2 linked regions of the Homo sapiens genome follow. The protein of the gene in region 1 interacts with the protein of each later gene in a biochemical or structural test. Each region holds a gene or a part of one and is shown in the gene's direction. Other genes may lie near its edges.

Region 1 (5,559 bases):
TCTTGATTTTCGATTTCTTTAGTCAGCGTATCTTAAATTTACTCTATTCATTTGTATATTGCATAGGATAATAGCTGGTATGTAGTTGGTGCTCAATAATTACTTGTGGAATAAATTAATTTTTCTTAACATACAGCAGGGAGACTTGGAGAGGAAAGGGCCTAGGGAGAGTTTCCTATTTCTTTTTTTTTTTTTTTTTTTTTTTTTTTTTGAGACGGAGTCTCACTCTGTCGCCCAGGCTGGAGTGCAGTGGCACGATCTCGGCTCACTGCAAGCTCCGCCTCCCGGGTTCACGCCATTCTCCTGCCTCAGCCTCCCGAGTAGCTGGGACTACAGGCGCCCGCTACAACGCCCGGCTAATTTTTTGTATTTTTAGTAGAGACGGGGTTTCACCGTGTTAGCCAGGATGGTCTCGATCTCCTGACCTCGTGATCCGCCCGCCTCGGCCTCCCAAAGTGCTGGGATTACAGGCGTGAGCCACCGCGCCCGGCCGAGTTTCCTATTTCTTAACCACACCATTGATAGTTTGGGATAGAGACAAATAGAGAAAGTTATCTTTAGAGGAGCTGTCTGTTGCACCAAAAAAAAAAATGTAACAGCACTGTTAACATCTTGGCATTGACCCTTATAGTCACTCTTTTTTCCTAAAACTATATGTGTGTGTGTGTGTGTGTGTGTGTGTGTGTGTGTGACATCATGTAAATAAGAATACACTACTTGGCAACTTGGATTTACCCCATACAATGCCATGAGCATATTTTATGTCGTTTTTTTTAAAGCATTCTTTTTAACAGCTGCATAATATTCCATTAGGGATAAAACCTAGTTTTAGGCAAAGTCCAACTCTTCAACATTAGTATTTCCAGTTGTTAGCCACAGTAAACAAAAATATGGACAATATTAACAAAATTAGAAGTTAAAATCAATGAGTTTGTATATTTTTAAATATTTGCAGAAAAGAAAAGGGAGTAGTCTGGAATGGGGACTAGATTTCAAACTTGGATGAGTAAGTGAAGCCAGGTAGAGTATCATAAGGTCTGTCTTGGTTGTGCTGAGTTTCAGATGCCTGTGAAATACTTATTTCATGTACTATTTAGAAGCCTAATCACCATAATTTTTGATATTGACTGAATTGCCTGACTGAAATCCAAGTCAGCCCACAATTCAAACATTGAAGTCCAATACCAACTACTTGAAAATGTGACTATTTGGAGATAAGGTCTTTAAAGGTGTAAAATGAGGTTTTAAGGGTAGGTCCTAATCTATTCTGACTGCTGTCCTTATAAGATGATATTAAAACACAACCCACACACACACAGGGAAGACCAGAGAGGGGAAAACCCAAGGAGAGTGGCCCCAGAAAAAATCAATCATGCTCACTGGTTTGATCTTGAACTTGTAGCCTTCAGAATTGTGACAAAATTAATTTTTTTAAGCCACACAGTCTTTGGTAGTTTGTTTTGGCAGCCCTAGCGAACACACTTCTCAAACATTTTCATTCTGGGAATACTTTTCTCCACACCTTTTCTATGTTATGCTAGCTTTTGTACTCCACAAAGACAAACACACAGAACACAGATGCACACCCACCCCTACTGTATGTTGTAGGGGAGGAAAGAGCGTTTCCTTTTACCCATCTTATGTTCATTGGCTGGGGCCCTGAAACAAAATACAGATTAACAACAGAAAAATATACACTTTATTTTTATTTTGATTTATTTATTTATTTTTGAGACGGAGTCTTGCTCTGTCGCCCATGCTGGAGTGCAGTTGCCCGATCTTGGCTCACGGCAAGCTCCACCTCCCGGCTTCATGGCATTCTCCTGCCGCAGTCTCCCGAGTAGCTGGGACTACAGGTGCCCGCCACCACACCCGGCTAATTTTTTTCAATTTTCAGTAGAGACGGGGTTTCACCGTGTTAGCCAGGATGGTCTCGATCTCCTGACCTCGTGATCCGCCCGCCTCGGCCTCCCAAAGTGCTGGGATTACAGGCGTGAGCCGGCGTGAGCCACCGCGCCCGGCCAAGAGAAAAACATTCACATTTAATATGAAGTTTTACATGACATAAGGAAATAAGGACCTGAAGAAGGGCTTAAACCTGAGTGTGTTTGCACTAGGTTTGATGAAGAGAGTCATGCAGAAATATAACAAGACAAAAATAATATGAGCTAAGGATAATAAACAAGGAGAAATCTAGCAAGGTTTATTTGTTCAGATTCCTCGCATACTCTGCAAGACTCCCAGGAGGGTCTTAAGACCTGCTTCAGAGGAAGGTCATACGAACATTCTTGTCTATGTTGTTCTACTAATGTCTTAGAATATTTACTATGTCAAGGCGCCATACTTTGGAGTACTATGTTGTCAGAAACCTGAGGTTGCTCATGGAGTACTATGGAGTAGTGACCTTTTTTTTTTTTTTGGTCCCATTTTAGAAATTTGATTAATGAGTATAAACTAATGGTTTCTATGTTTGAGACGGAGTTTCGTTCTTGTTGTCCAGGCTGGAATGAAATGGCGGGATCTTGGCTCACTGCAACCCCCGCCTCCCGGTTTCAAGCGTTTCTCCTGCCTCAGTCTCCGAAGTAGCTGGGGTAACATAGGCATGCGCCACCACGCCCGGCTAATTTTGTTATTTTTAGTAGATACGGGGTTTCACCATGTGGGTCAGGCTGTTTTTGAACTCCTGACCTCAAGTGATCCACCAGCCTCGCCTCCCAAAATGCTGGGATTACAGGCGAGAGCCACTGCGCCCAGCCAGCCAAAACTGTAATTTTTTTTTTTTTTTTTTTTTTTTTTTTTTTATGAGATGGAATCTAGCTCTTTCGCCCAGGATGGAGTGCAGTGGCGCGATCTCTGATCACTGCAACCTCCGCCTCCCGGGTTCAAGTGACTCTCCAGCCTCAGCTTCCAGAGTAGCTGAAACTACAGGTGAGTGCCACCACGCCCGGCTAATTTTGTTTGTATTTTTTTAGTAGAGACAGGGTTTCACAGTGTTAGCCAGGATGGTCTCGACCTCCTGACCTCGTGATCCGCCCGTCTCGGCCTCCCAAAGTGATGGGATTAGAGGCGTGAGCCACCGCGCACGGCGGAAAACGAGATTTTTTAGATCAACTTTACATTGCCAATGCCCATGGTATTCCCTCCACAACAAACTCCACAAGAGTGCTCAGAAAAGTCAAACTTGTTATCAGGTGATCTTTAGGGACCCAAAGACTACTCTTCCTACCCTTTCCAGTGTTGCCCAGGCTGGAATTGCACTAGCGTATTCACATGTTCCTGCAGTCTCTAGCCCGAGAGTTTAAGCTATCCTACCACCTCAGCCTACCGAGTAAATGATAGTACAGACGCAAGCCGTCACACCTGGTTAGCTTCATTTTTTTGCAGAGACGAGTTCTATGTTGCCCAGGCAAATCTGTTAACTCCTGAGCTGAAGAAAGCCTCATGCATCGACCTCCCAAAGTGCTAGGATTACAGGATCTTGCCAACACAGAACAGGAGTATCTCCTGATCAATTTTTTTTGAGACGAAGCCTCGCCTTTGTCGCCCAGGCTAGAATGCAAAAGCGCCATGTCTTTTCACTGCAACCTTTGCTTGCTGGGTTTAAGTGATTCTCCTGCGGCAGCCTCCCGAGTCTCTGGGATGACACGCGACTGCCCCACGCCCGGCTAATATTTGTATTTTTAGTAGAAACGAGATTTAACCACGTTAGCCAAACTGGTCTCGATCCGCACGCCTCGGCCTCCCAAAGTGCTGGGATTACAAAATCGGAAAAATTATTCCCTAGAAAACGGTGAAATTCAATATTAAAGCTCTTTATGTGAGACTTGAGTGGCTCTGAAAAGAGCCTTTGAGTTTTAAAGCACCTAAGCACACATTTACTTGGAGCTTGTATACTTGGTGACAGCCTTGGTACCTTCGGACACTGCGTGCTTGGCCAGCTCTCCGGGAAGCAGCAGACGCACGGCGGTCTGGATCTCCCTGGAGGTAATGGTCGAGCGCTTGTTGTAGTGGGCCAGACGGGAAGCCTCGCCTGCGATGCGTTCGAAGATGTCGTTAACGAAGGAATTCATGATGCCCATGGCCTTGGATGAGATGCCAGTATCGGGGTGAACCTGTTTTAGCACCTTGTACACATACACGGAGTAGCTCTCCTTACGACTGCGCTTGCGCTTCTTGCCATCCTTCTTCTGCGCCTTGGTCACAGCCTTCTTGGAACCCTTCTTCGGAGCAGGAGCTGACTTAGCTGGTTCAGGCATGCTGTCAGAAAACAATAACAGCAGTGAGAATGAACGCACTTAAATAAAAGCTCGTGTCTAGAGTCTCTCCTTTTATAGGCCTTTCATGCAAATAAAGAATTCAAAATATCCAGCTCTGATTGGGCAATGTGTTAGTGACGCATACATGTAAAATAGCCTTCACCTTATTTCCTTTCTAATTGGTTGGCTCGTCAAAGAACAATTTTAACCAATCAAATTGCGCCTTTCACAATTCTACCGATGACTATAACTAGCTTCTTATTCCTCCATCGAGCCCATTCTTTTTCTTTATTCAGTGGATTGTTAGTTCTTCTGCTGTTAGGAAGCCACTATGTCTGGACGTGGAAAGCAAGGCGGCAAAGCTCGGGCAAAAGCTAAAACGCGTTCTTCCAGGGCCGGTCTTCAGTTTCCAGTTGGCCGTGTGCACCGCCTCCTCCGCAAAGGCAACTACTCCGAACGAGTCGGGGCCGGCGCTCCAGTGTACCTGGCAGCGGTGCTGGAATATCTGACGGCCGAGATCTTAGAGCTAGCTGGCAACGCGGCTCGCGACAATAAGAAGACCCGCATCATCCCGCGCCACCTGCAGCTAGCCATCCGCAACGACGAGGAGCTAAATAAGCTTCTAGGTCGCGTGACCATCGCGCAGGGCGGTGTCCTGCCCAACATCCAGGCCGTATTGCTGCCTAAGAAGACGGAGAGCCACCATAAGGCCAAGGGCAAGTGAAATGATTACTAGTCAAATCCGTCAGTGATCCCGAGTCCCAGAAACCAAAGGCTCTTTTCAGAGCCACCCACCTTTTCTGTAAAGTGCTGGAATACACATACGATGCCTGAAATCTCAATGTTCACTGTCCTAATTTTTAACGAACGCTTCTGACGTTACTGGTCAGTTCTTTATTGAAATCCTTGCTCACATTTCATGCACTAATTTATCTTACTGGTGTTTCTTTGCAGTAAAAATGCGTTTATAAAGGTATACAAGAATAGAAACCGAGGTTGTGACACCAAGGTTTCACTGCGTTATTTTGTGTATAGGTCCATGCTGTGTATACAAATTTATCATTAATACACAGGCTGTTTATTCATGTGCACTTGTCAGAAAAGGGTGAAATATTAATACAGAAACGAGAGAACAAAGAAGGATAGCTGCCCATTAGCATTTCAGGGCGGGCTTTTTAAGTTTTAAAGATGACTGCATTCCGGCTGGGCTCAGTGGCTCATGCCTGTAATCCCAACACTTTGGGAGGCCAAGGAGGGCGGATCATAGGGTCAGGAGTTCGAAATCAGCCTGCCCAACATAATG
Region 2 (3,699 bases), on another chromosome or scaffold:
CTTCACCCAGGATATTGGTTTTATTTAGGACAGATGAATACTACATTCTCGTGGTTGAAAATACCTATTACATCATTTCTGCAACTTAGGATAATTTAGATTTATTTCTGGTTGAGCATTCCAAATCTGGAATCCTCCCGTGAGCATTTTCTTTGTCTTGGGTTCCAGATTTTGGAGTATCTCAGATTTGGGATTTGGGATGCTCAATCTGTGGTAGGATAAATTATAAAGTCCTGTGTATGACATGACATAGTATTTGCGTAATTTAAATGTACATAAAGATGGAGTCTGTCACCTTGTCACCAGCCCCAGTCTTCCCCGTCCCTGCACAGCTCCTTTACTGACATCCCATTTTCTAGGCGAGTCCCTTGGTGGAGGCACACTGCTTGTCCCACTCCTCCCCTCACTGCTCCTGCTCGGGGCGCCCTGCATCCCCCACACTCCTAAGGCCAGTGGCTCAGTGTTCTTGGCCACTACACTGGGCCACCTTCAGTCTACCCTTGAATGTCAGATTGACATGGCGAGGGTTTTTGGTCAGCCTCGTTTTGTCTTGGCCAGGCTCTTTGGGCAGCCTCTGGGGTGGCTGAGATTGGGAGCTTAGACACCAGGGTTCAAGGTTATTGATTTTGTTTTTTGCATATTTTACACATATTTTTTCGGCCATCCCTTAAATGTGATTTCCAAAAGAATGAACTGTAGCCTCAGCTTATACTGTGGAAGATATCATTTATGGTAACCCAGGGATCTTTTTGCCCCATACAGTACAAGTTCTTAGGTTCCATAGGCACGCTGGATTAAGGGCAATTTGTAATCTTAGCCAGAAATCATAGGTTACAGGTTCGTAAAGTTACTAGCGCAGAAGCATTAGCAAGATCGTGATGTATTTCTTAGGCTATTGTTGGCCTCCACACAAATTCATGGAGTTGCTGGATGTGGTTTAAAGGGTACAAGATCTCTGTGTTAGATAATATTGGAGTTAATCCATTCCTCTGGGAGGGGAATTTTGTGTCCCGGATGCCGTTACTGGAAGGATAGCATTGCCCCTTGGTGAGACTGTTAGGAGAGTGAAGGAGAGTGAGTGACAGATGGAGCTCTTGGGAGTGGCAGCTCATCATTTGTTGGTGCAGTACAGGCCACCAGAAGAGGATGGATCTGCCGGGGCGCTCCCTGGTAGTACAAAGAGCAGGAACCCGCTAGAGGAGAGATGTGCTTTCCATGAGCGCCAAGGGCCCAGCCTACCCCCAGACAGATGTGCCCTTGAGAAGTGGGGACTGTTGGCACCAAGAGGGGTTGCCTCCGCGGTGGCCTTCCTGGATGGAGCTGCCCGTGTTGAGCGCACTGTGCTCTGTGTGGGCAGGGGTTCCAGCTGCTTCCCAGCCCTTTCATGGGCAGGCCCCTGGAGCTCCACCACCCCAAGGAGCCCCAAAACCCTCCTGCTGAACATGCCATGAATTTGAATGCTTGAAGGCATAGCTTTAAAAACAAAAAAAAACCCTGCTTTGACTGCAGGGTGGTAGGGGGAGTTAGCTTTGTTTTTGTCACTATTTTTAAAAGTATATTTGCAGTAACCATTTTTTTCAATGAGAATGAACTCATTCAGTCTTGGCTTTCATTGTTGATTGGAGCTAATTGGTGAATGGAGCTGGCTTTGCTCTCTACAAGCCTTGTCTTTTTCATTGACAGAAGGAACCCAGCCAGCCGGCGGAATGCAAGCAGCAGTAGGAAGCGGAGGCGGGTGCCTGGCAGACCGGCTGTCGGGACTCCAGGCCTGTGGGCGGGGCCTCGGTCCTTGCCGCAGCACAATCCCGTGGACAGAGCTTACTCCATCTAACTCGTTTTCAAGTGCATGATTTTCACTTTCACTTTTCCTTTTTCCTTATTATTTTGCTTAACTTGTACAGTGGCAACTGAAATGCATTTCAGAAATAGGAGGTTTCGTCCAGCACCCTCTGCAGCCTTGGTGCCTGTAGCTCTGGACTTCCCTGGGCCTTTCCCTGTGGGAGGGCCCTGTAGACCACATCAGGGTGGGGTGGGGGTCACTTGGCAAAAAGGGCCGAGGTCTGGTGATGTGGTTCCCAGGATCTGGAACCTCTCCCACCCCTCCTGCAGTTGGACTGAATTCTTCCCTTTCATCCGAAGAAACCCACTTGCTGTTTCCAGCCGCTGAATCTGCTGAGTGTGCAGCCTGCATCACCTGCTGTATGCCGATCATCTCAGAAAGGGCTGTGTAGAGTAGGGCCCTGTTCTCCTTAGGATGTTGCTTCTTGATTTTTTTTTTTTTTTAGGGGTGGGTCAGGGTTGTGACACACCAGCCCAGGTGAGAGCTGCTGCGGGTCACCTCATATTTATTTATCCCTTCTTGCCTGTGAGGACTGCGGCTTTTCGCTGTGGCTCGTCCTTAACGTTTCTGAACCACCTTGGTGCCCTGAGCAGGAAGATGTGCCACTTCCTAGCAGGCGCAAGGCCTGTGCGGAAGAAACGCCGCTCCCTGCCACCAGGGCTGAAGATGCGAGCCCGTCCTCATGACGCAGGCGCCACCCTGCTGCCGGAGCCGGGCTTCGGCAGTCTTCTCCACTGAGGGACTGGGCTGGGAAGTCCTGCGTTTCAGTGGAGCGTATGAGCGTCAAGTCCTGCTTTCTCAGTAGCCCCATTGCGGGGCCCCACCATTCATCCTGTCTGAAGGTCCTGGGTTTGGTGTGACCGCTTGGCGGCTGGTGGGTGGGGTTTTCAAGTGGGTGACGGCGCTCTCCGGCAGCCGGGGATGGCCGTGTCCGCACTGACCAGGCCTGTGGAGAGTGCTCGGCCTAACCTTAGAACACATTTGTAACTGAATACAGTGTTTTCAATTTGTACAGAATAGTTAGAATATTCTATTAAAGTGGTGAAACATTGAGTCAGCACTGTGCCATGTGGGTCTTTGCAGGGGAATGTGGTGGGGAAGGCTCAGATGTGCTGCACACCTGTTGGGCTCTGTTGAGCCCTGGGTATTGGTGGCTCCAAGACCGGTTGTACAGTTTACTTCTGAGGCCTTGAAAGCTCAGTTTGAGGCAGAGGCTGCTGTAGCCCCCCCACTACACCTAAGTTGCTGCTGTATGCAGGCAGCTTCACTGCGGGCCCAGGGGAAGACTGTTCCTGCCCCCAGGAGGGGATCATTTCTCAGAGTTAGTGGGACTGTGCTTTGTAGATCCAGAAGGCTCCAAGAGGAGAACTTCCTGATAAAGCCCATGTTAGGTGTGTTTGCTCTCTGAAGCTTTTCCCCGTGTCTCTTCCATCCACAATGAGAGGAGGCACTCAACACCTGCTGCACAGGCACTTCCTGACCTGACCGTGGGAATCCCAGCCTTGGCAGCGCCGCCTGGTGAATGAAACGCTGTCATGAGAAGGCAGCCGTGGAGCTGGCTCATTGCTCCCCACGTGGCTGGCCCCGCCCTGCTGCCTCCAGCTCACCCGTGGGCTGCCTTCTCTCTGGGAGCAGCAGGAAGGGCAGGTGCAGGCTGGGAAGTGAATGCTTGCAGCATACCCCCAAGGGCCGGGGAGCCTGATGTCTGTGCTTCCTGCACCCGTTCCTCCGTCCCCATCCTGTGAAGTACCTGGGGGAGCTTGGTCTCAGGCTCCCCAGCCTCAGGGTGGCCCCATGGGTGAGCAGCACCCTGGCCTTACTTGGTCTGCCCAGGGTCAGACCCCATAATCCAAGGGGCA

What was found.
Region 2: the proteins of H2AC8 (region 1) and NAP1L4 form a complex in vitro, tested with the Homo sapiens proteins (one study listed by BioGRID).

The regions. Positions count from the first base shown.
Region 1 is NC_000006.12:26,212,388-26,217,946, forward strand, and holds H2AC8 (histone H2A type 1-B/E), read left to right. Parts: upstream 1-4,533; 5' UTR 4,534-4,587; coding exon 4,588-4,980; 3' UTR 4,981-5,050; downstream 5,051-5,559. Other genes in the region: H2BC8 (histone H2B type 1-C/E/F/G/I), read right to left, coding at 3,876-4,256. UniProt on the Homo sapiens protein: Core component of nucleosome. Nucleosomes wrap and compact DNA into chromatin, limiting DNA accessibility to the cellular machineries which require DNA as a template.
Region 2 is NC_000011.10:2,943,631-2,947,329, reverse strand, and holds the end of NAP1L4 (nucleosome assembly protein 1-like 4), read left to right. Parts: intron 1-1,683; coding exon of another isoform or gene 1,684-1,722; 3' UTR 1,723-2,893; downstream 2,894-3,699. UniProt on the Homo sapiens protein: Acts as a histone chaperone in nucleosome assembly.